Homo sapiens: one gene and its partners. The protein of the gene in region 3 purifies or fractionates together with the protein of the main gene of each other region. This does not show direct contact. Each region holds a gene or a part of one and is shown on either strand. Other genes may lie near its edges.

What was found.
Region 1: the proteins of ZMIZ1 (region 3) and SETD4 fractionate together in Homo sapiens (co-fractionation; one large-scale study listed by BioGRID). This does not show direct contact.
Region 2: the proteins of ZMIZ1 (region 3) and RBPJ purify together in Homo sapiens (affinity purification with western blotting; one study listed by BioGRID). This does not show direct contact.
Region 4: the proteins of ZMIZ1 (region 3) and ZEB1 purify together in Homo sapiens (affinity purification with mass spectrometry, with the first as the bait; one study listed by BioGRID). This does not show direct contact.
Region 5: the proteins of ZMIZ1 (region 3) and MAML1 purify together in Homo sapiens (affinity purification with mass spectrometry, with the first as the bait; one study listed by BioGRID). This does not show direct contact.
Region 6: the proteins of ZMIZ1 (region 3) and ETS1 purify together in Homo sapiens (affinity purification with western blotting, with the first as the bait; one study listed by BioGRID). This does not show direct contact.

What each region holds. Positions count from the first base shown.
Region 1 is NC_000021.9:36,043,440-36,047,280, forward strand, and holds part of SETD4 (SET domain-containing protein 4), read right to left. Parts: intron 2,573-3,841; coding exon 2,143-2,572; intron 531-2,142; coding exon of another isoform or gene 518-530; coding exon 343-517; coding exon of another isoform or gene 320-342; exon of another isoform or gene 245-319; intron 213-244; coding exon of another isoform or gene 148-212; exon of another isoform or gene 1-147. UniProt on the Homo sapiens protein: Protein-lysine N-methyltransferase that methylates both histones and non-histone proteins. Via its catalytic activity, regulates many processes, including cell proliferation, cell differentiation, inflammatory response and apoptosis.
Region 2 is NC_000004.12:26,432,219-26,435,423, reverse strand, and holds the end of RBPJ (recombining binding protein suppressor of hairless), read right to left. Parts: 3' UTR 501-3,205; downstream 1-500. UniProt on the Homo sapiens protein: Transcriptional regulator that plays a central role in Notch signaling, a signaling pathway involved in cell-cell communication that regulates a broad spectrum of cell-fate determinations.
Region 3 is NC_000010.11:79,309,894-79,313,734, reverse strand, and holds part of ZMIZ1 (zinc finger MIZ domain-containing protein 1), read right to left. Parts: intron 2,812-3,841; coding exon 2,551-2,811; intron 1,094-2,550; coding exon 986-1,093; 3' UTR 1-985. UniProt on the Homo sapiens protein: Acts as a transcriptional coactivator. Increases ligand-dependent transcriptional activity of AR and promotes AR sumoylation. The stimulation of AR activity is dependent upon sumoylation.
Region 4 is NC_000010.11:31,504,136-31,507,976, reverse strand, and holds part of ZEB1 (zinc finger E-box-binding homeobox 1), read right to left. Parts: intron 1-3,841. UniProt on the Homo sapiens protein: Acts as a transcriptional repressor. Inhibits interleukin-2 (IL-2) gene expression. Enhances or represses the promoter activity of the ATP1A1 gene depending on the quantity of cDNA and on the cell type.
Region 5 is NC_000005.10:179,739,035-179,742,875, reverse strand, and holds part of MAML1 (mastermind-like protein 1), read right to left. Parts: intron 1-3,841. UniProt on the Homo sapiens protein: Acts as a transcriptional coactivator for NOTCH proteins. Has been shown to amplify NOTCH-induced transcription of HES1. Enhances phosphorylation and proteolytic turnover of the NOTCH intracellular domain in the nucleus through interaction with CDK8.
Region 6 is NC_000011.10:128,482,858-128,486,698, forward strand, and holds part of ETS1 (protein C-ets-1), read right to left. Parts: intron 3,290-3,841; coding exon 3,212-3,289; intron 2,215-3,211; coding exon 1,966-2,214; intron 1-1,965. UniProt on the Homo sapiens protein: Transcription factor. Directly controls the expression of cytokine and chemokine genes in a wide variety of different cellular contexts. May control the differentiation, survival and proliferation of lymphoid cells.

The DNA of each region.
Region 1 (3,841 bases), on a different chromosome or scaffold from region 3:
CTCTAATCCTATTTTCTTTAGTGCCAGTGACAACGTCTCAGTATAAACATTTCCATCCTTTAATACTGTATTTATTTCCTTAGCAGTTTTCCTTTTCTTCCATTCTATCTTCTGACCCAATGCAATGAAAACTTCTCAAAATATCAGTCAAAACTTCGTTGTTTTTACTTCAACACTGAAATTACAGCCAGTAAGAGTAAGGCTAGGCCTACCTAGAAGAAAATTAGTGATATGTATGTCAGTCTTAAGGTTTTGATATTTTTATTAAAACTGAAAATACACATCTCCAAATGGGGAAAAAAATTATATAGTGTTAATGTTAAGAACAAAGTTGATTCCAACCTCTTGAGACATAAACACAAGCATGAGGATTATGGACAGAAACAAATCCGTATTCCAGGAACAGCCGTTGATTATCGTGAGGGCCGTAACAGATGAATACCTCTTCATGCTTTCTCCAACGTGAAGTCGTTCTAATTTCGTAAGAATGAGTTTCTTCATTAAACGCTGCTTTTACCTAGAAAGAAAAACTGTTAAGGTATTTTTTAAAGTAAGGTGTAAAACTCCAAAGCTGATTAAGTTATTACATAATATTAATGTGAGTCAGGTGCAGCTTTCAAACACCCATCAATAAATGTAACTACGCATAGGGAAAATGCCACTTCCGGTTTCATCCACCTCGACTTCACCCCATTGATGACGGAGGGAGTCCTGCCCTAGGGCTCTGGGGGTGGCCACACCACGACACCCGACACAGCACAGATGAGATCATCAGCAGTTTATTGGTCACGTCCACTCACAGCCCAGGGAAGGAGGACATGGTGGTGCCAATAAACTTTATCTGTAAAAAGCTAGAGAGTAAATACGTTCAGCTTTGCCAGCACTATGTGGTCTCTGTCACAAGTTGTTGTATTTTCACAATCCTTTCAAAGTGTAAAAACCATTCTTAGCTCAGGGCTCTTGGGCCACACGCCCACAGGCTGTAGTTCGTGCTGTGGTCTTCCTACAGTAAACTATAAACTCATTGGTTTGGCACATAAATGCACCAAAAGTCCCAATAAAAATAAATCACTGCTGACGGAGTCCCCATGTCTAGCATCCTATCACACTACACACTCCTGATATTATTTCGTCAACATCAACCACAGAAACACTCACCTAATCCCAGGCTCCTTTGCTCCCGATTATTAAAGATACTTCTTTCTACAAAAGTAACAAGCAGACAGCCCTTGTTCCTGGGCTAAGAAAGCAGAGCGGGAACCTCCCTAAGCTCTGATCTCACGTAGAGAGCACGAAAGCTTAGCACGTGGGCTCACAAGGCATGGCTGCTCTTCTCCAGTGGAATGTCAGATGAAGGCGACGGCCAGGACACAGATCCCAGCCATGTCCCTCCACAACACACCCCAAAGTGGTTACAGGTGAGCCAACTGATGGACTCTCTTCCGCTCTCCAAGCCAGGCCTCTACCCCTGCATGCCCTGCAAATACACTCATTTCCTAAATGAGCCACCTGGGGAAAGCGCTGGGGAGGAGGCGATCTGTGACCACCTCCCAAATCAGGTTTCTTTCATTATTTCCCAGAACCCTTTCCCCACAAATACCCATCCATTCAATAAACATTTACTGAACACCTACTATGTGCCAGGCCCTGCCATGAGCACTGAGGTGACAAAGAGGAACAAGACAAAGACCCCATTCTCAAAGATTTCAGAGCTCAGTGGGAAAAAGAGCAAGTCAGTCAGCGATCAGAGCGAAGAGAAATGCTGTGACAGCTACAACACCAGTTTAAAAGGGACGGGGCAGGAAAGCAAGCTAAGCTTCAGTCCCGGAAGGAGGAACGAGGGAGAAGGAAGGAAGGCTCCGCACCACAGGCTGCTGGGAAAGACCGGACAGAGGATGCAGCACGAGGCTCTGTAGGCCTGAAGAGCAGAGTGAAGAAAAGGGGCCAAGGCAAGCACTGCGGGAGGGATAGTGGGGTCTAGAAGAACAACAGGAGCCTCCTGACGTCAGGCCAACCTGACAGGGTCACCTGAAGCCGCCGACACCTCTCCCTGTGGTGCCACCCACATCTACAGCCACAGGTTCTGGGCAGCGGAAGCCTTCCTATCCAAATAGAATAGCTGCTCCCTTGTCAGCTTCTCACCTGGACATGTGGGCTATGATTCAGCAGGTCCAGGTACGGAGCGAGTGCACAGGTGTCCGGCTCTGCAGAAAGGCATTCCCGCTGCCTGGGCCTCAGGTACACGGCTCTGGTGTTGACGGTGCACCAAGCCCACAGCAGGGCACTGTAGCTGAAGATGCTGTCAACAGCCTCCGCAAACAGAGGCTGCAGAGAAGAGAAAAAGTCTCTGGAGGAAGCAAAGAACTCCTGCACGTGGGCTCTCTGCTCTTCAGCCTTTGCTTTTAAAGATTTGGGAAGAAGGTTCACCACTTCCGGCTCCAAACAAACAGGGCAGGTATACGCCTTGGGTAAAATCTCCAGGTAAGGCTTCCAAAGAGATCGGTGCCCAGCATGCTTTTCTGAAACTAAAAAGGTGCACAGCGCCAGCAGAGGAGATGGAGGAGGCTTCCACCTTTGAAAATTAAAAGCCAGTTTAAAGGAATTACTTTGATTCAAAATACGAAATAAGCCAAGCAGTTTGTTTTGCTGCCAGAAGGAGTGTGTTCAAACTGTCAACACACTCAGTTTACTTAACAGACTCAAGAGTTCCTTCCTTCCTTCCTTAAGGCTCTTCCTCTCCAGGGGAGCACAGCCCCAGTGCTAGTGCTCTGAAAGAGCCATACTTACATGTCAGAAAAACTGACTCACTAAGCCAAGTTCCAGGTTTGTTTGCAAGAGATTCCTCTTTGCAAAAAAACCTCTTTGCTTCCAACTTGGTTCTCCAGTTGTAAACCTTTTGACCTAAGTCCATTTGTCTCACCTATGTAAAGATATAAAATATGGTGGGGAAAAAATGGTGGAAAGAACTGAGACCTGCACCATCCGATATAGTAATCACTGGGTACACAGAGCTATTTAAATTTAACCTTTAATTATTTAGAATTGAATATTTAAAATTCAATCCCTTGGTAAGATAAGCTATGTTTTAATTGCACAATAGCCATTCAGAGCTAGTGGCCACCATACTGGACAATGCATAAAAAACATCTGTCATTGCTAAAAGCTCTATTGGAGGGCACCAACCTAAACCAAAACTGAATATGCTCATATACAGTTGTTGCAGTTCTAAAGCTTTTATTCCTAAGTTTACCTGCTCTATTACAAATTATGTATCACAGTATTTTTACTTGCACAATTGCCGATAAAAAGATCTCATGTTGCCTGAATGTATTTAGAAAGTTTTCATCAATCCTTCGACATCCAGATTCCTATACTGCCATACATTCTACTCAAAATTTCAGAATGATTCAGAAAATGTTAACAATGACAGCATCATTGTCTCTACACAGGCCTAAAAGACCTATTCACTCTCTTCCAAAAACATGCCAGGGGGAAAAAAGACCAGCACTTACCTAATGGTTAAGAGACAGTATACGCCAGGCACAGTGGCCGTTTGCCTATATCCCAGCACTTTGGGAAGCCAAAGTGGGTGGATCACTTGAGGCCAGGAGTTTGAGACCAGCCTGACCAACATGGAGAAACCCCATCTCTACTAAAAATACAAAATTAGCAGGGCATGGTGGCGCACACCTGTAATCCCAGCTATTTGGGAGGCTGAGGCATGAGAACTGCTTGAACCCGGAAGGTGGAGGTTGCAGGGAGCCAAGATCACGCCACTGCACTTCAGCCTAGGCAACACAGCAAGACCTTGTCTCAAAAAAGAAAGAAAAAAACGGTATAC
Region 2 (3,205 bases), on a different chromosome or scaffold from region 3:
GCACTCCAGCTCAGGGGCGACAGAGCAAGACCCCGTCTCAAAAAAAAAAACTTATGTAACTTCCCCATTTAACTTTGTTTCATATTAAAGAATACTATCCCCACTTCTAGGACCCACCCCCACCCCTCAAAGGCAAACGATTATGTGTTCCTTCCTATAGCAGACAAAATGACCATCTTATATTGGAAAAGTAAGTTATTGCTAAGTAATATTCTCAAATTTTGTTGCAATCAGCTTTAAATGATTCTGATTTGAGAGATATGACCCTTGAGTGACAAAGCCCATTTCACCATTTACACAGGGAAAAAAAATCTCTTTAAAGCACTATATAGTTAAAAACATTGACAAGGAAATTAAATTAGTAGAGCTATCACTTTGATGTGATGTACATGGTAAGATTGTAAATACACCAACTATAATATAGAATTTAATTTTATCTTTATGAAGTATTCTGAAATAAAAGACGATAATACATGCATCAGGCACATTCGACAGAAGACTTTTACAATGGTTTACATTTCCTTTTTATTTATTCCTTGAAACTGCTCGTATTGCAAGTTTTTCACGGATGAAATATGGAACTGAGCAGATTCTTTTTTTCTACAAAATTATGGTATAAACTTGCTCAATTTTCTATCTTATTGCTAATAAACCTTACAGGCGCACAGTTTGTAAAATAAACCCCTTAAGGACTGAATGCGTAGAGCATGCTGCAAGGTACAAGAAATAAGCTAAAAATGAGCATATAAACCTACATCTGGACCAACACAGTACTGAATGCTGGCAAACATTTATCACAACACAGGGGAAAATTAACAAAAGGAGATACAGTTCAGTCCTGAAAGGGTTAAACAGAAACCCTAATATATTATTGTTTCTAACCATCCATCCCACATTACAGTGCTTGAAAACAAAGTCATAAGTCTGGCACAGAAAATTACACACATTTGTTCAGTACTTATCAGAAACACAGCTGCTTTTGCAATCAAAGTAACTTGGTTACTAACTGAACAGCATTTTGTTTCAAAAGGAACCTCCTCCCCAGTGGATTTTCTGGTTAGCATGACTAGTTAGGTTAGTTCTCAAAAATGGCATTGGAAGTTTTTTGTGAAAGCACAGATGGTACCAGTTTCATTAAAAACAATAAAACAAAACAAAACAAAAAAACTAACCAGTTATGATTGCAGATAAGTCTGTGCAGTAAGAGTGACAAACATTTCACGATTAAGTCATGTATAAACATGCCTTTAATTGCCACAGTTTAAAGAAAGTGAGCAGCAAATTTAGATAGTATACTAGTGTTCAACGCTGAAATCACTCAAAATATAAAGGGCATTTTTAAGGCTTTTAGCTTGCCTTCCCAATCTATGTGATAAATTAAATGGAACAAATAAAAACATATTGGATCAGAGACTCAGCTTCTATGTGTATGTTTAGAAACTGCATAGTCATGAGAGCATAAGATACATTTCTAAAACAGAATTTTTTAAAAATTCAAACATACTATAACTGAAGCACTCACCATTCTAATAAGAGAGTCTTTCTGAGGGTAAATGACCAGCATGTCTAATAATGCCATCACTGGAGGAGGGCACACAGTCTACTATAACCAGAGGACAAGGTTCCTATAAATTACATACTGAAAATGATTCACAAAACCATGAAAGAAAAAATGTAAGCAGCTGACAAAAGAACTACTGATAAACAATAAGCTACAATGGACAAATCATTTCACTCTTTAGTCTGTGGTATGAGAATGGCCAAAAATAGGTGGGGAAAAATGCCTGTATAAGTACATTCTTGGACTTTTCAAAAAAAGAAAAGAAAAGGGTTTACAGTATAATATTTCAATTATCTTACGGAAAGAAACTATCAAAATAAAACATACATGTTTGTTAAAAAAACACAAGTTCATTTTAATAAGGTCATGAACTTGAAAAATTATTTTTGAGCTACAAAAATGGGTAAGGAATAGTTTGTTCTTCAAAAGTATCTCTTTTGTTATTGGTTAATTTAATATGATTCCTTAACTAAATACCAAACCTAGGAAGTGGAGGAAACTTGTGGCCGTTAAAGCAAAGCAGCACTAGGAACATGTCCATGCTCTGAACAAAAGCACTGTGTAATGATTCCTGCCATGACTCCATAGAGAGGAATAACTACTACTCAGAAATAAGTGGTCTGTAAGAAAGAGACAGTGAACAATTACAACAAAGAAAGATAAGGCCACAATGAGTTCTGCCCTTGATCACTGAAACAGATTTAAGGTGTGAGGCAGGATTAGCTTATAAGAGAGAAGTGAGTGATTGGAGCAGATTTGAAGAAAAAAGGCGATATAGAATAAAATGCAGCCTGGGGGTGATTAAAAAGGCTTGCAGTAAGAGAAAACCGCAATAACTGATTTAACCACCTAACGTGCTTTACAAATGACCTTCCCCTTGAAAACTGAGGAAAAGGCGATTTAAAGATGTTAGGAAGAATATTTACAGTGGCATAGTCTGAGCATAGAGTGAGTGATGAAGACAGCAAAGCTGGAAAAAAAATGCTACTAATAATAATTTCTAAAAAGTCTATTAATGGAAACTTTTTCAAAACAGCCCAGGACACCAGAAAGACAATGTTCTGTAGGGAAACACTGTAGGAAGTTACAGTTTTGCATTCATAAGGTACTGTGGCTCCTGTTTTATGGGACAGTAAAAGCTTACCACAATCTAGAGGTAGTTTTTACTCTAAGAGGGATGATTGTATTACTAGACTGTGTTGTATAACATTACACACGTGGTTCCTGTACTAAATGTAGCCCAATGAGTCTGCTGCAATTTCGAAGAAACCAAACAAAGGCATAAACAAAGTTCAGGAATGAAAGCACGGTAAAACCGGCGGGGTTAGCAAGCAAGGCCAACCTACAACCCTGAATGCAACCAAATCTCAACTGAAAAGAAAAGAAACATTTTCTGAGTTAGGAGACATTTGTGGAGATGCTCAGTACTGGAAAAGAGAAAACAAACAAACAAAAAAGGCAGAGAAAAAAATGAAAACATAAGTTACATTTGCATTTTATAATCTTACAACTATCTGTTTCTAAAGTACTGTCTTCCAGCTATTTTAGTTGATCATCTAATAAAAGCATCTTATGTTTTAAGATTACAATGATGTTCTGGCTAGGCTACCCCCTCCAACCCCCCAAAAAAGTAAAGATAATAAA
Region 3 (3,841 bases):
CTTGCTGTCCAAGAGCAACGTTCCTTTTCTCCAGGTGACTTCATAGCTTTAAATTGTTGCTGTTTAAAAAGAGAGTGGCTTGGAGCAAAGTTAGAAGTTGCCGCTCCTGTTTGCTTCTGACAGGTTATATGCCCGCGCCCCCCAACCAAGGGCACAATCACTTTGGTTGGGTGTACACCTGCTCTCTCTGTTCCCCAAGCCTGGGCCCTGTCTGAGCTTGGAGGTGGAGCCTCAGGGACGTCCTGGCTCAGAAGATGTCCTGGCCCTCTTCCCCACCAGTCCCCAAGCAGGAATGGCAGACCCCCTCTCAAACACAGACTCTTGTCCTTTTTCTCTGCTTTCTGAGTGTGTTTATGGGGTATCTTGGCTTATAGGTCAGGGGTCAAACCGATGACCCCTGGCCCCCGAGAGACGTTGTCTTTCCCAGAGGTTTGTGCTTTTCTGTGGTGGGTGGTGGTGGGTGGGCTGGTCTCACTGCCACCAACTGCCAGTGCTCCTCCAAGGCTCGGGGCCCATGCTGGGGCCCGGGGGCCTTCTCAGGCTCCACAGTCACTGGAGGGAGGCTCTGGACCAGGAAGCAGGGAGGCAGGGTTACAGTCTAGAAGATGGAAGAACCTTGGGGACACTGGAAGGTCATCTGGAATCGGCACACGCGGAGGGACCGGGAAGCCGCATCAGCGTGTGCCCTCTTACCGGGCTGGTTCCTCTCGGGAGGGTGGTCTTCAGGCCTGCGCTGGGCATGGGCCCAAGCCAAGGGTGTGGAGGTGGGACGTGGGCTCCAGACCCACACAGCCTTCCTGGTGCACTGGTGCACCCTCCCTACCCCTCTGTTCTGAGAGGGCTGCAGCGGGGGAGGGCTCCCCGCCCCACAGCCCGTGGCTCTGGTGCGGGGCGGTCTGAGGGCACAGGCTCCCAGGTGGAAAAGTGTGTTGGGTAGGTGGGGTAGGATGCAGAGTGTGGAGGGATGGCCCCGACCGGGTGGCCCTCAGTTGTTCTCAAATAGAGACAGGAGGTCATCGTTACTATTGCTCGGCAGGTCGGGGGGGTCCAGATAAGACAGGAGCTCGTCAGGATTTGTGAGTTCGGGAAGGAGCTGGAAAAGAAGGAGTAATGAAGTTCAGATGAGGTGTGCCTGAGAGGCAGGCCCCGGGTGAGGAATGCAGGGGCGCCCTGGCCCGTCCCCCTCCACCTGCCTCTCAGGACCCTAGCCAAAAAAAGGGGTAGAGAACAGCCTTGGGCTTGGGCCTGCCAGGTATCCCCACACATACCCCGGCCACTGCACCGAGTGTGGGGCACCCCCATGCTCATTTCAAGCCTCAGGATTGGGACCCGCAGCCCACCAGCTGAGGCCTGAGCAGGGCTGACCCTTTTCAGGCATGGACTTCAGCCCTAACCTGGGAAGGCCCCATGGCAGGTCACTTGGGCCTCCCAGCTGAAATCACATGCTTCACGTGTAAGCACAAGGAGGTGGGCTGGTGGGAAGGCGGGAAGGCGAGTGGTTCCTGCACCGCCCCCAACCCCCCAACATCCCTCTTCTCAAGGGCTCGCCACTCCTTGGTGAGCCTGTGGCTGGCTGGCAGCCATCCTTCCCTGTGGCCCCGGAGGGGATGCAGACTGTCTCTACCCTCTACTGAGATATCCTTGGAGTCTGTCACATGGGGAGCCTCATGCATCTAAAAGCAGCCCCACTGGCCTGGTTTGAGGGGGAACACTGGGCAAGGACCTGAGATGGCTGCACAGTGAGTGAGTCCTAGCTAGCACAGAGCTCCTCTGATGCTGCAGGGCAGAGGCTGACAGAGCAGGGCTGGGGGTGAAGAACAGGAGGGGCCGAGGACAAGCCTCCTCCCGGAGTCTGGCACCAGCTCTGTGTAGGCATGGGCGGGGCCGGTGCTCAGTCCCATCCCGCCAGCCCCATCCAGCAGCCCAGCCCCATCATCCAGGGTGACCCCCACCATCTTCCAGACCTCAGGGTAGGAGCCCTGGCACCTCTGCTGCCCATGATGGCCTGCTGCCCCTGGCTGTGACCCAAGGCTGCCCCCTCTGCCCCCACCTTCTGTCACCCACATGGGGGCCTCTTGGAGTGAGCGATGGAGCAAGCAGAAGCAGGGCATGGACAACACGCGGACAAGAAAACTGGAGACAGACACACACCAGCGAGGCAGACAGACGGCCTCTCCCTCCAGCCCTCCCTGCCCGGGCCAGAGAGGCAGACACAGAAACCGCAAGCTCACCATCGGGGGAGGGCAGGGACCCTCCTGTGCTGCGCAAGGGACCCCGCAGGGCTTGGGTCAGAAGGTGGGTCAGGGCTGGGGTTCAGGGCTATGGCCAAAGGGACTGGGGGGACAGGAGCCAGCAGGGTGGGGACCCTCAGTGGTGACACTTCCCCATCATGGGGCTTCCTGGTCTGGAGCCAGGTCTGGGTGAAGCCCTCCCACCGCCCACCCACCTCCTCCCTTCGGGGCCTCGAGCCCTCACACCCACCCCTTCTCTCGGGCAGGTCCCGGCGCCAGGCCTAGCCCCAGGCCAAGGCGAGTGGCGACCCCAACTTACATCCAGCGAAGGCTCCGGCATGTCGGACGCTCCCTGCGCTCCGGCCTGACCCTCTAAGGCTGAGGAGGGGTTAAAGGTCAGGTCGCTGTGTGGATGGCTGCTGGGAGCGGCCTGTGGCGGCTGCCGGGGAGGCTGGGAAGGAGGAGGAGGAGGAGCCCCACTGTGATGTAATGGAGGCCCTGACTGGCTGCTGGGGTGTGGTACGTGCAAACCTTGTTGTATGGAGGGGTGGGGCTGGTCAGAGCTGCCAGCGTGTGGCATCTGTGGAGGAGGAGAGAGCGGGAGAGAAGAGAGGTGAGGTGAGGAGGCACGGCGATGATGCCTGGAGAAAATGAAACCCAACACAACCAGGGAAGTCACAACCCCCGAAACGTGGCCACCCGGTACGAGGCTGAACGTTGTTTCTGGGCAGAGAAACAAAGAAAAATTTCTCCCCCAAAACCGCCCATCAGGGAGGCTGCAGGGGGACGGCGGGGACCTCTCGGGCCACGTGGAGCCCCAGGAGGTGGGGAGGGCTTCGACACAAGCACAGACACGGGGAGCTGGGCCTGGGCTCCCCCAGGCCCCTCCACCTCCCCGCCCAGACAACGAACAACAGCGAGGGCAGGATGGAGAAGCAGAATGGGCATGTTCCGGGGAGCGGGAGGCAGGAGGGCGGCTGCCTCAGCGTGGTGCAGATCCCAAGCTGGGCGGCAGAGAGCAGACACAGACAGACAGCATTGGGCGGGCGTGCGGCTCAGGACTGGGTCTGCACCTCCCAAGTGGGCCCTGGGCAGGGGTGATGCTGGGTACGAAGGCGCCTTCTGCCAGTCCGAAGTGTGGAGCAGCTGGGGCCTTGGCACAAGCCCTGCAGCGCGGGTGGAATTTGGCTGTCAGAGGAGCAGGGCTGGGTGGGCACCTGGCCAGCCAGGGGCATCTTCACACCCTGCCAGACCCTTTTCCTAGACATCCCACTTGGTCGGCACCAGCCCTCAAAAACACAGGGTTGTGAGGGAGGCAGGCACCTCTGGGACTCCAAGGACAAGGAGACTGAGTGACGGTTCACCAATGGTGGGTGTCTTGCTGAGGGTGAGGCTGGCGGTGCCTCTCTAACAGATAACTAGAGGACTCGCACCCTCCTGTGGGCACGTGCACTGAAAACTGGGCTGTCTGTGGGTGGGTGGGTGAGATGTGAACATTCCCCTGCTAGCCTGTTTGCTGTCCCAAGCAGATCCTCCTTCAAAGTGAAAGGCCGGGGAATCCTCGCAGACCAAGCCCTGATCCCACTGCAAGCATCCCTGACAGCCCCCAG
Region 4 (3,841 bases), about 48 Mb from region 3:
GAAAGCAAATCCAAAAAACCAGAATAATTGACTATTATACCAGATGTGTGGTATCAAGGTAAGAATACAAGAAACATGAAAAAGGAAGGAAATATGACACCTCCAAAAAATACAATAATTATCCAGCAACAGATTCCAATCAAAATAAATTTATGAAATCCTGGAAAATGATTAAAAATAATGATCTTATAAAAGCTAAGTGAGATAGAAGAAAACAGAAAAGCAACACAAAGGAACCAGAAAAACAAATCAGGATATGAATGAGAAATTTACCAAAGAGGTAAGTATCATAAAAAAGAACTAAACAAATTCTGGAATTGAAGAATTCACCGAATGAAAGACAAAAGACAACTGAAAGCTTCAGCAATAGATTAGGTCAAGCAGAAGAAGAATTTTAGAACTTGAAGACAGGTCTTTTAAAATAACCTAGTAAGAGAAAAAAGAATAAAAGAACAATGAACAAAGCCTGTGTGACATATAAGAAACTATAAAGTAACCAAATATTCGAATTTTTGATGTGTTATAAGGCAAAGAGGAAACAAAAGGGATAGAAAACCTATTTAATGAAATAATATCCAAAAATTTCCCAAGTCTAGCAAAGGATTTAGACATCCAGATACAGAAAGCTCAGCGCACCCCCAAATAGATACAATTCAAAAAGATCTTCTCCATGGCACATTATATTCACTGTCAAAAGTAAAAGACAAAGAGATATTCTAAAAACAACACGAGAAAAGTGTCCAATCACTTGTAAGGGAACCTCCATACGACTAATAGCAGTTTATCAGCAGAAACTTTATAGGCAAGGAGAGAAAGAAATGATATATTTATTCAAAGTATTGAAAGAAAAAAACCCTGCCAGCCAAGAATATCATACCCAGCAAAATTATCCTTCATAAATGAAAGAGAAATAAAGTCTTTCCTAAACAAGTAAAAGCTGAGAGAATTCATGACCACTAGACTGGCCCTACAAGAAATGTTTAAGGGAGTCTTATCCATGGAAGTGACAGGAAGATATCTACCATAATGAAAACACATGAAAATATAAAATCCACTGGTAGAACAAGTACAAATAAGAAAGAGAAAGAACTCAAATGTTACCACTATAGAAAACTATCAAACCACAATAATAATCAGTAAGAAAGAAAGGAACAAATGATACACAAAACAACCAGAAATCAAAATGACAGAAATAGGCTCTAACATATCAATAATAATAACATAAACGGATTAAACTTTCCACTTAAAAGGTACAGATTGGCTGAATGGATAAAAACTGTGACCCAGCTATGTGCTGCCTAGAAGAAATTCATCTCACCTGTAAAGATCCATATAGACTGAAAGTAAAGGGACAGAAAAAGATGTCCATGCAAATGGAAACCATAGTGAGCAGGAGTAGCTATAATGAGATAAACTCTTAAATCCAGTAAACAAAACAGTATAAGGGGACAAAGAAGGTCATTAAAGAATGACAAAGGAATCAATTCAGTAAGAGGATATAACAATTCTTAACATATATGTACCCAAGACTGGAGTACCTGGCTATATAAAGGAAATATTATTAGATCTAAAGGGAGAGACAGATTCTAATACAATAATAGTTAGGGACTTCAACACCCCTATCAGCATTAGACAGATCATGTAGAAAGACACTTAACAAAGAAACACTGAATTTAAACTGCATTTTATACCGAATGGATGTGAGACACTTACAGAACATTTTAACCAACTACTAAAGGATACATATTCTTGTCATCAACACACAGAACATACTCTAGGATAGACTGTATGTTGGGACCCATGACAAGTCTCAAACAAATTTTTAAAAATCAAAATCATATCAAGTAGCTTTTAGACCACAAAGTAATACAACTATAGATTTTAATAATAAGAGGAACTTTGGAAACTCTACACACACATGAAAATTAAACAACATGCTTTTGAATAACCACGGGGTCAAGGAAGAAATAAGGAGGAAAATTTAAAATTTCTTTAAATGAAATTAAAATTAAAATTTCTTTAAATGAAAATCAAAACAGAACATATCAAAACCTATGAAATATAGCAAAAGCACTAAGAGGAAGTATATAGCAATAAATACCTAAAACAAAAAATAGAAACATTTCAAATAATCTAACAATGTGCCTCAAGAACTTAGAAAAGCAAGAACAAAGCAAACCCTAAATTAGGATTTAAGAAGGAAAGAAATAATAACAATCAGAACAAAATCAATGAAATGAAGACTAAAAAACAACACAAATAACAAAACAAAAAGTTGGTTTTTTTGAAAAGGTAACAAAACTGATAAACCACTAGCTAGACTAAGAAAAGAACAGAGAAGATGCAAATAAAAAATGAAAAAGAAGACTAACAAATGATACCACAGAAATACAAAAGAGACAATTATGAACAACTATACATGAAAAAACTGAAAAACCTAGAGGATATGGATAAATTCCTGGACACAGCCTACCAAGATTAAATTAGAAAGAAATAGAAAACCTGAACAGACCAATAATGAGTAATGAGATTGAATCCATAATGAATATTTCAAGTCCGGGACTGAAAGGGTTCACTGCTGAATTCTACCAAACTGTCAAAGAAGAGCTAACACTAGTTCTCCTCAAACTATTCCAAAAAACTGAAGAGGAGGGAATTCTCCCTACTTCATTCTATAAGTCCATCACTATCTTGATACCAAAACCAGAGAAAGATGAAACAAAAAAAGGAAAACTATCCAGGTCAATATCCCTGATGACAACAGATACAAAATCCTCAAAAAAATATTCACAAACTAAATCTAACAGCACGTCAAAAAGATAATGCAATATGATCAAGTGGGATTTATCCCAGGGATGCAAAGATGGTTCACCTCCATATAATAAAGGACATATATGACAGAACCACAGCATACTGCATGGAACAAGCTGACAGACGTCCCTCTAAGAAGTGTAATCAGAAAAGGATTTCCACTCCTTCACCACTCCTATTCAACACAGTATTGGAAAGTCCTAGCCAGAGCAATTGGGCAAGAGAAAGAAATAAAAGCCATCCAATTTGGAAAAGAAGTCAAATAGTCTCTCTTTGCAGACTATATGATCTAATATCTAGAAAAACCTAAAGACACAACCAAAAAACTGCAATCTGCTAAATAAACTGAAAGTTGCAGGATACAAAACTCAACATAAAAATCAGCAGTGTTTCTGTACACCAATAATGAACTAGACGAGAAATAAATCAAGAAGACCATCTCATTTATAGTAGCTACAAAAAAGTAAAATACCTAGGGATAAATTTACCCAAGAAGGTGAAAGACCTCTCCAAGGAAAACTACAAAATATTGATGAAAGAAATTGAAGAAGACACAAGTAAATGGAAAGACATCCCATGCTCATGGATCAGAAGAATTAACATCATTAAAATGATCATATTGCCCAGAGCGATCTACAGATTCAATCCAATCCCTATCAAAATATCTATGTCATTTTTCACAGAAGCAGAAAAAACAATCCTAAAACTTTTACGGAACCACAAAAGACCAATATAGCCAAAGCAATCCTGAGCAAAAAGAACAAAGCTGGAGACATCGCACTACCTGACTTCAAAATATAATACAAGGTACAGTAAGGAAAACAGCATGGCATTAGTAAAAAACAGACACACAGACCAGTGGAAGAGAACAGAGAACCCAGAATAAAATCCACATTATTAACAGCCATTTGATTTCGACAAGGCACCAAAAACATACACCAGGAAAAGGACACACTCTCCAATAAATGGTGCTGGGAAAACTGAATATTAACATGTGAAGAATGAAACTGGACTCCTATTTCTCACCACA
Region 5 (3,841 bases), on a different chromosome or scaffold from region 3:
TGATAAGAGCTCATGTCTTCATGCATAGCCGCATATTAAAGATTTGAAATGTTCTTTCTTTTTAGATGGAATCTTGCTCTGTCACCTGGGCTGGAGTGCAGTGGTACAATTTCAGCTCACTGCAACCTCCGCCTTCTGGGTTCAAGTGATTCTCCTGCCTCCTGCCTCAGCCTCCCAAGTACCTGGGATTAGAGGTGTGTGCCGTCACGCCCAGCTAATTTATTTTTATTTTTTTAGTAGGGACAGGGTTTCACCATGTTGGCCAGGCTGGTCTCGAACTCCTGATTTCAAATGATCCACCCACCTCAGCCTCTCAAAATGCTGGGATTACTGGTGTCAGACACTGAATGTGGCAAAAATGTTGGTTTTTTTTTTATTATTTATTTTGAGATGGAATCTCACTCTGTCGCCTGGGCTGGAGTGCAGTGTCACGATCTCGGCTCACTGCAACCTCCGGTGCCCAGGTTCTAGGGATTCCCCTGCCTCAGCCTCCTGAGTAGCTGGGATTACAGGCACGTACCACCACGTCCGGCTAATTTTTGTATTTTTAGTAGAGATGAGGTTTCACCATATTGGCCAGACTGGTCTCAAACTCCTGACCTCAGATGATCCACCCGCCTTGGCCTCCCAAAGTGCTGGGATTACAGGCATGAGCCACCGTGCCTGGCCAAAAATGTTCTTAATAAAGCAAATTAAGTTTGTTGGCCAGGTGCGGTGGCTCACGCCTGTAATCCCGGCACTTTGGGAGACCGAGGCGGGTGGATCACCTGAGGTCAGGAGTTCGAGACCAATCTGGCAAACATGGTGAAACCCCGTCTCTACTAAAAATACAAAAAATTAGCCTCAGCTACTTGGGAGGCTGAGGTGGGAAAATTGCTTGAACCCAGGAGGTGGAGGTTGCAGTGAGCCGAGATCACCCCACTGCACTCCAGCCTGGCGACAGACGGAGACTCTGTCTCAAAAAATAAATCAATAAAACAAATTTAAAAAATAAAATACATTTGTTTAGCCAATATGTGCAGATGCTCAGAGGGAAAAAGAATTGTTTAGCCCAGTGTTCCTCAAATGTGTTCCACTGTAACTTTCAACAGCCCATGAAATTAGTGTTCCATGGAACACCTCTGGGGAAAGCATCTGGCTAAAGCTTAAGATCCACCTTAAAAGTAAATTCTTTTTTTTTTTTTTTTTTTTTGAGACAGTCTCGCTCTGCCACCCAGGCTGTAGTACGATGTCACAATCTCAGCTCACGACAACCTCGACCTCCTGGGTTCAAGTGATTATCCTGCCTCAGCCTCCTGAGTAACTGGGATTACAGGTGTATGCTACCGTGCCCGGCTAATTTTTGTATTTTTTACCAGAGACGGGGTTTCACCATTTTGGCCAGGCTGCCCTTGAACTCCTGATCTCAAGTGATCCGCCCACCTCAGCCTCTCAAAGTGCTGGGATTACAGGCGTGAGCCACCACGCCTGGCCAAGAGTCAATTCTTTAAAGCCTTCCAAACTTCACCAAAAAGGCATCCCCCTTCCTCAATATTCTCACAGGCTTTAGCCCTGAACTCGGCTTTGCAATGACCTGTGTATCATCTGCTCCCACTTAGGCTCCGCGATACAGGTTCACCATCTACCACGATTCCTGGCTCCAGCAGGACTTCAATGTTGGTTGAAAGAACCACCAACTGAACGCTGGGAATTGTGGAAAAGGAGTGGAAAATTCCCAGGTTTTTACTCTGGATGACTGGGTTAGGGAAAATACTTAGAAGGAACATATGATTTGGTAGGAAAAAGGGAAAGTCCATTTTGGATATGTGGGAAATATATCCTGGAAAGATGAAAATGTCCAGCAGACAGCTGGAAATGTGGATTTGAAATCTGGAAGACAGATCTGGACTGGGGATTTGAAGAGTATTATTACAGGTGACAAATGAAGCTATGAAAGAATCAATAACATCACCCAGGGGAAAAAAAGAGTGAAAATGGCCAGGGATATAGTTGCCTAGAGAACACTAATATTTTTAAAGTGCAAAGAAAGTTTCTCAAGCCATAAAACTAGGAATTTCCCTTGAATACTCCCCTCTCCTGCCCGCAAAACAAAGCCATCTAGTCCAGCAACCCAGTCCTGTCACCTCTGCCCTCAGGAACTGTCCAAAACCCATCTCCTCTTCTCCATCTCCACTGCTACCACCAGCCCCAGCCCTGGCATCTAGAGAGCTACAAAAGCTTTATATGCATCCACTCCTATCCACACCAACCCCAGGCATCCTCCACCTAGCACCAGAACCATCTTCCAAAACTTAAAGATCGGCCGGGCACAGTGGCTCACACCTGTAATCCCAGCACTTTAGGAGGCCGAGATGGGCGGATCACGAGGTCAGGAGATAGAGACCATCCTGGCTAACACGGTGAAACCCGTCTCTACTAAAAAAAAAAATACAAAAAAATTAGCCGGGTGTGGTGGCGGGCACCTGTAGTCCCAGCTACTTGGGAGGCTGAGGCAGGAAAATGGCGTGAACCCGGGAGGCGGAGCTTGTAGTGAGCTGAGATTGCGCCCCTGCACTCCAGACTGGTCAGCAGAGCAAAAAAACCTAAGTTGGATCATATCATGTTTCTGCTCCCTATCCTGCTACTGCTTCCTACTGCACTTGATCTGGTCCTAGGTGCCACGCTGCTCCAGACACACTGGCCTGCTTTCTGTTCTTCATGCCAGCTCAGAAGGGTCCTAACTCAGACACTTGGTACTGGTGGTTCTCTCTAACTGGAATGTTCTAAGACTTTCAGCTGACTGACAGCCTCTCAATCATCAAGCTCAAATCAAGGCATCTTAAGCTACGACTGTCATTTAGTATCACATGACTCTGCTTTTAATTTTTGCTTAGCACTTATTATAACAAAGTTAACAAAAATATTGACCTCCTCTTTCTCCATGACAGCAGAATTTTAATTTGTCCTATTCGCTACTGTACACAGCAGTTCCCTTGGTGTCCATGGGGAATTGGTTCTAAGACCCCTGCCCAGCCTCGCCGGGACACCAAAATCCAAGGATGCTCAAGTCCCTTACATAAAATGGCCTAGTATTTGCAATAATATATACACATCTTCCAGGATACTTTAAATCACCTCTAGATTACTTACAATACTTCGTATGATAGAAATGCTATGTAAATGTTGTCATATTTTTATTTTTTATTTATTTTTGATGCAGGGTTTGGATGTCACCCAGGGGCTAAGGTGCAGTGGCGCAATCATAGCTCGCTGCAGCCTTTACCTCCCGGTCCCACGCAATCCTCCTACTTCGGTCTCCCGAGGAGCTGAGAATACAGATGCATGCCACCATGCTTTTATAGAGATGACATCTCACTATGCTGCTCAGGCTGGTCTTGAACTCCTGGGCTCAAGAAATCCACCAGCTTTGGCCTCCTGAAGTGCTGGAATTACAGGTGTGAGCCACCATACCCAGCTATATTTTTATTTTTATTTTTCTATTCTATTCTATTCCGTTCCGTTCCGTTCTATTCTATTCTATTTGAGAGATGGAGTCTTGTTATATTGCTAAGCCTGGTCTAAAACTCCTGAGCTCAAGCTATCCTCCCACCACAGCTTCCCAAAAGTTCTGAGATTACAGGCATGAGCCACCATGCTGAGCTGCATATTATAATTTGTGTTAATTGTTGTACTGTTATTTTTTTACTTTTTTTTCCAAAAAATATTTTCTATCTACAGTTGGTTGAATCCGCAGATGCAGAATGCGCAGATACGGAGGGCTGATTGTACTCTGGCCCACAGCAGGTGCTCAAATATTTGCTGCATGAATTAATAAGGGAAAATAGTAAGGAGACTGAGAAAA
Region 6 (3,841 bases), on a different chromosome or scaffold from region 3:
AAAACAGAAGATGCGGCAGCACCCAGCCACCCACTGAGTAGACTCGTACAAAGACAGTCCTTAGGGCCCAAATAAGTGGGGCATAGAAGCACTCTGTACGCTGTAATGCAGCCCGTGAATACTGTACTATGGTTAGTATAAATAACAATCAGCTAACAGTAATGCTTTCGGTCTAGACCAATCACAGCATCTCAGAATCAATTGGCCCTTTGCATAGGCCCTGTTTGCAGCACTTCTAACATGCAGAAAACAGCCCTGCACAAAATGGTCTTCCCCTCAAGTTTCTGTGGCCTGAACTTGGAGGGAGGGAAGAAGAGTGGAGCCAGAAAGAAATACCTCATGTCTCCTTGTAAGGGTCACTTTTGGTCCACAGTCATTAGTTTGGGGTTGGAGGGGTGGTAGGGACCAAAACCAAGAATGAAGAAAAGGAGAGGGAAAGAGACAATTACACAAATGCAAAGCCAGATGCAATTTCAAAACAATGTGACAGGAGATCGACCCAAAGTTACAACATGGCTGAGCCCAAACCCACAGGCTTGGCCTCACTGTGTAGATGTACAGAAAGTCCCACAAGGAAGAAAGTCGTTTTAATGCTTTGACTCGCCTGATAAAAAAGAAACACATGTACACACACTTGTGTGTATGTATTTAAATAGACATGCACCCAAAAATAAAAAAGAGCCAGAAAGGGGAAGGCCGACTGGTCCCACCCATCCCCTTCGGTCTGAAACACTAACACCCTGGGGCCTTAAGAAGGAAGATTAGGGGTTCTGATTTTGCAGGGACTTTCCCTCTGCAGGGCTTGTTGGTGATCCCTAGGCCTGCTAGGAGGAAGTGTGAGTCTGAATACTCGAAGAAGACGACAATGGGCATGACCCATGATTCTTCAAAGTAAAGGTACCATTGGGCTCTCCTCCAAGAGCCTCACAATAGGCACCGCATATGGTCAGTCATTGAGCAGAAATCACTAATAGGCCAGCCCCAGCCTGACATCTGACCCAAGCCCCGCTTGATCAGCTTTCTCCTGTTCCTCTTCCCATTTATAATTCTTTCCCATTTACCCACCAGAAAAGTCAGGTTTTTCACCTTTTTAGAAATCATCTAGCTCTTGCTAAATAGACAAACCCTTTCTTACAATAGATTGCATTTTTCTCAGAAACAAAACAATCTGGACACTTTACTAGGTAGGCTGTACCTCTGAGTGTTTATGTCCTGTTCCTAAAAATTGGGTGCATTTTACCTTTTTTGCTTTATGTCACCCAGCTCTATTTTTAAACACTTTCTTCCCTGACAGTGAATATTTTATCACTATTATAATAGTCACGTTAACAAAACTACCTTCTTTTGGAAACCCCTGGCCACCTCCGTCCCTGGTCCTCTAGCTAAATACACACTTCACCACACTGCTGATGACTGGTTCCAAATAAACCGTTGGTTAACCATCTTGTATCTTCCCAAACCGAAAAAGTCACAGGAGGCTAAAGATCCCAGGCTGGCCAGCAGAGGTCATTCCAGGTACCCAGCTAGGATCTACAGTCAGACCCAGGAGTCCTCTGGGAGGAGCACCAGGACACATGCTAAGCTTAAGGGTTTTCCAGGGTGGCCACTTGAACCATTTTTACTTGATTATGTCCTCCTCAAGGAAAATAGAGCATACCTTTCAAAATGACCAAATTCAACTAGAGTTATTGAGTAAAACATTTTGCCCAAGTAAGATATTTAATTTCTTAGATTGCCTGATTTTGATTTCACTGTGGACCCCATGGCCTTTGTCATAATAATGGACTTGGCTAAAACACCACGATGGAAAGTTCTTAGTATCTGGACACTCTAAGATGGGAAGGCTGAAACTGAGGAATCTACAGGTCTAATAAATAAGAAAAAAAAAATGGAACCTGAAAAAAACTCACAAAGTCAGGTAATTCTTGTAAACCCAAGAGCTTTTAGAGAAGAAATATGACCTACCACGACTGGTCCTCCCCATGCACATGTTGTCTGGGGTGACGACTTCTTGTTTGATAGCAAAGTAGTCATTCTGCAAGGTGTCTGTCTGGAGAGGGTCTCGGAGAATGACCGAGGGGTAGTCATTCTCATACTTGAGGGAGAGGAGCTCTTCCGAGCTGATGGGATGGAGCGTCTGATAGGACTCTGTGATGAAGCTGGGCTCTGAGAACTCCGATGGTGGAACACACTGGGCATGCTCAATACCATAGCCTGGAAACAAAGGGTTTGCAAGTAAAGAGAGGAGAGATTTGTACCTAAAATAAGCAGTTTTCACCATCTACAGGGCCCTATGATGTGGGACAAGCTCCTTAGAGAATAAGGGAAAATACTTTAAATCAGAAAAGCTTGCATTTTTAACCTTGTCCACTACTAAACAGCTTTAGCCCTTGACAAGGTAATTGATTTCCTGACTTCATATCCTCATCTCTAAAATGGGGGTGATTGCGATTTTTCCCGGAGCACTGTGATGAAGATGAAATGAGGATAGAGGTCAAATGCCCACCAACATTCCCCACACAATAAGCTCTTGACACAGAGTAGTTAATATCATTGTGTCACTGGAATAAAAATTGTAATAACGTAAAAAGATAAAACGAAAAAAATAAAACCTGTTTCATATTCCCTGTAAAAGCACAGCCATCAGATAAGATGGTCCTATATCTCAGAGCTTACATTAGTGCAACAGGCCTACATTCATTGTTTCCCTCAGGCCATCTCTTCAGTATGGTTGGGTATCTTACACGAAAAAGGAGAAGACTGTATTTCCTATAATAGAATTTGAAGCTGCATAGCACACTCTTAAAGAAGGATTTTGGAGGAAATGCTGTTATCTCCACTAGTAAAAAGGAAAGAACAAAGACCAAGATCAAATCCCTAACCCAACCCTCTTTTGGCCATCGTAGTGCACAGTATCAAATAGGAACAAAAGTTTAGGGGTCTAGTTGCAGTCTCTCTGCATGACTTTCAGGTGAAGACATCAGAGAAGGATCCTAGTGTGTAGGAACTTGGTAGGTTAATGAAACATATATATAGGTTGAAACTTTGTGCTTTGTGGAAAATAATAAAATAAAGTAACAAAGAAGAGTCTACATCTAAGAAGATATTATTTTTGATAGAATTACCATGAAGGAGCCTGAGATTCACTGAGATAGGGGTCTTTTCCTAGTTTGCTATTATCATGAGAGAAGAGGGGTAGAAATGAACTTACTAATGAAGTAATCCGAGGTATAGCGGGATTCTGGATAGGCTGGGTTGACTCCATTAACTTGATATGGTTTCACATCCTCTGTAATGAACAGATAGGGAAGGAACAAAGAGGTCAATATTCAAGTCATGCTTGGCCTAAAAGGATCTTGGATGCAAAGACCACAATGATCTCAACCCCTTTTCTAAGAAATCTGCATACTCATTAACTGGGTTGGTATCTGAGTCTGTCCTGACTGTGGCCTTGTCTAAAGATGAGATCAAAAAAATATGACTAAGGTTATTATTTCAGTAGCTGCAAAATGGGATTTAGTATCTTGGAAAGAGAATCCATGAGTAATCTCTAAGGGCTCAGAAGGCATTCAGCATTCATTCTCAATGCATTCGTGCTGCGTGTATGTCGACCACACTATAGCCAAAGGCTTGAGTACATCCCAGGTTAGCAGGATCAATCCCCAACCCCCAAACTAATCAATTTCAAAATTTCTCAAAAATATATTGCAGTCTTTAGGCCATAGATTTTACGTTCTCCATTTCCTCTAACAGATGTCTGGTTTTTGTTTTGTATTTTTCCCATTGCCCTCAGGTTTCAAGTTCAGGCCCAGACAAGAAGCAGGACACTGGTAAGGTGACT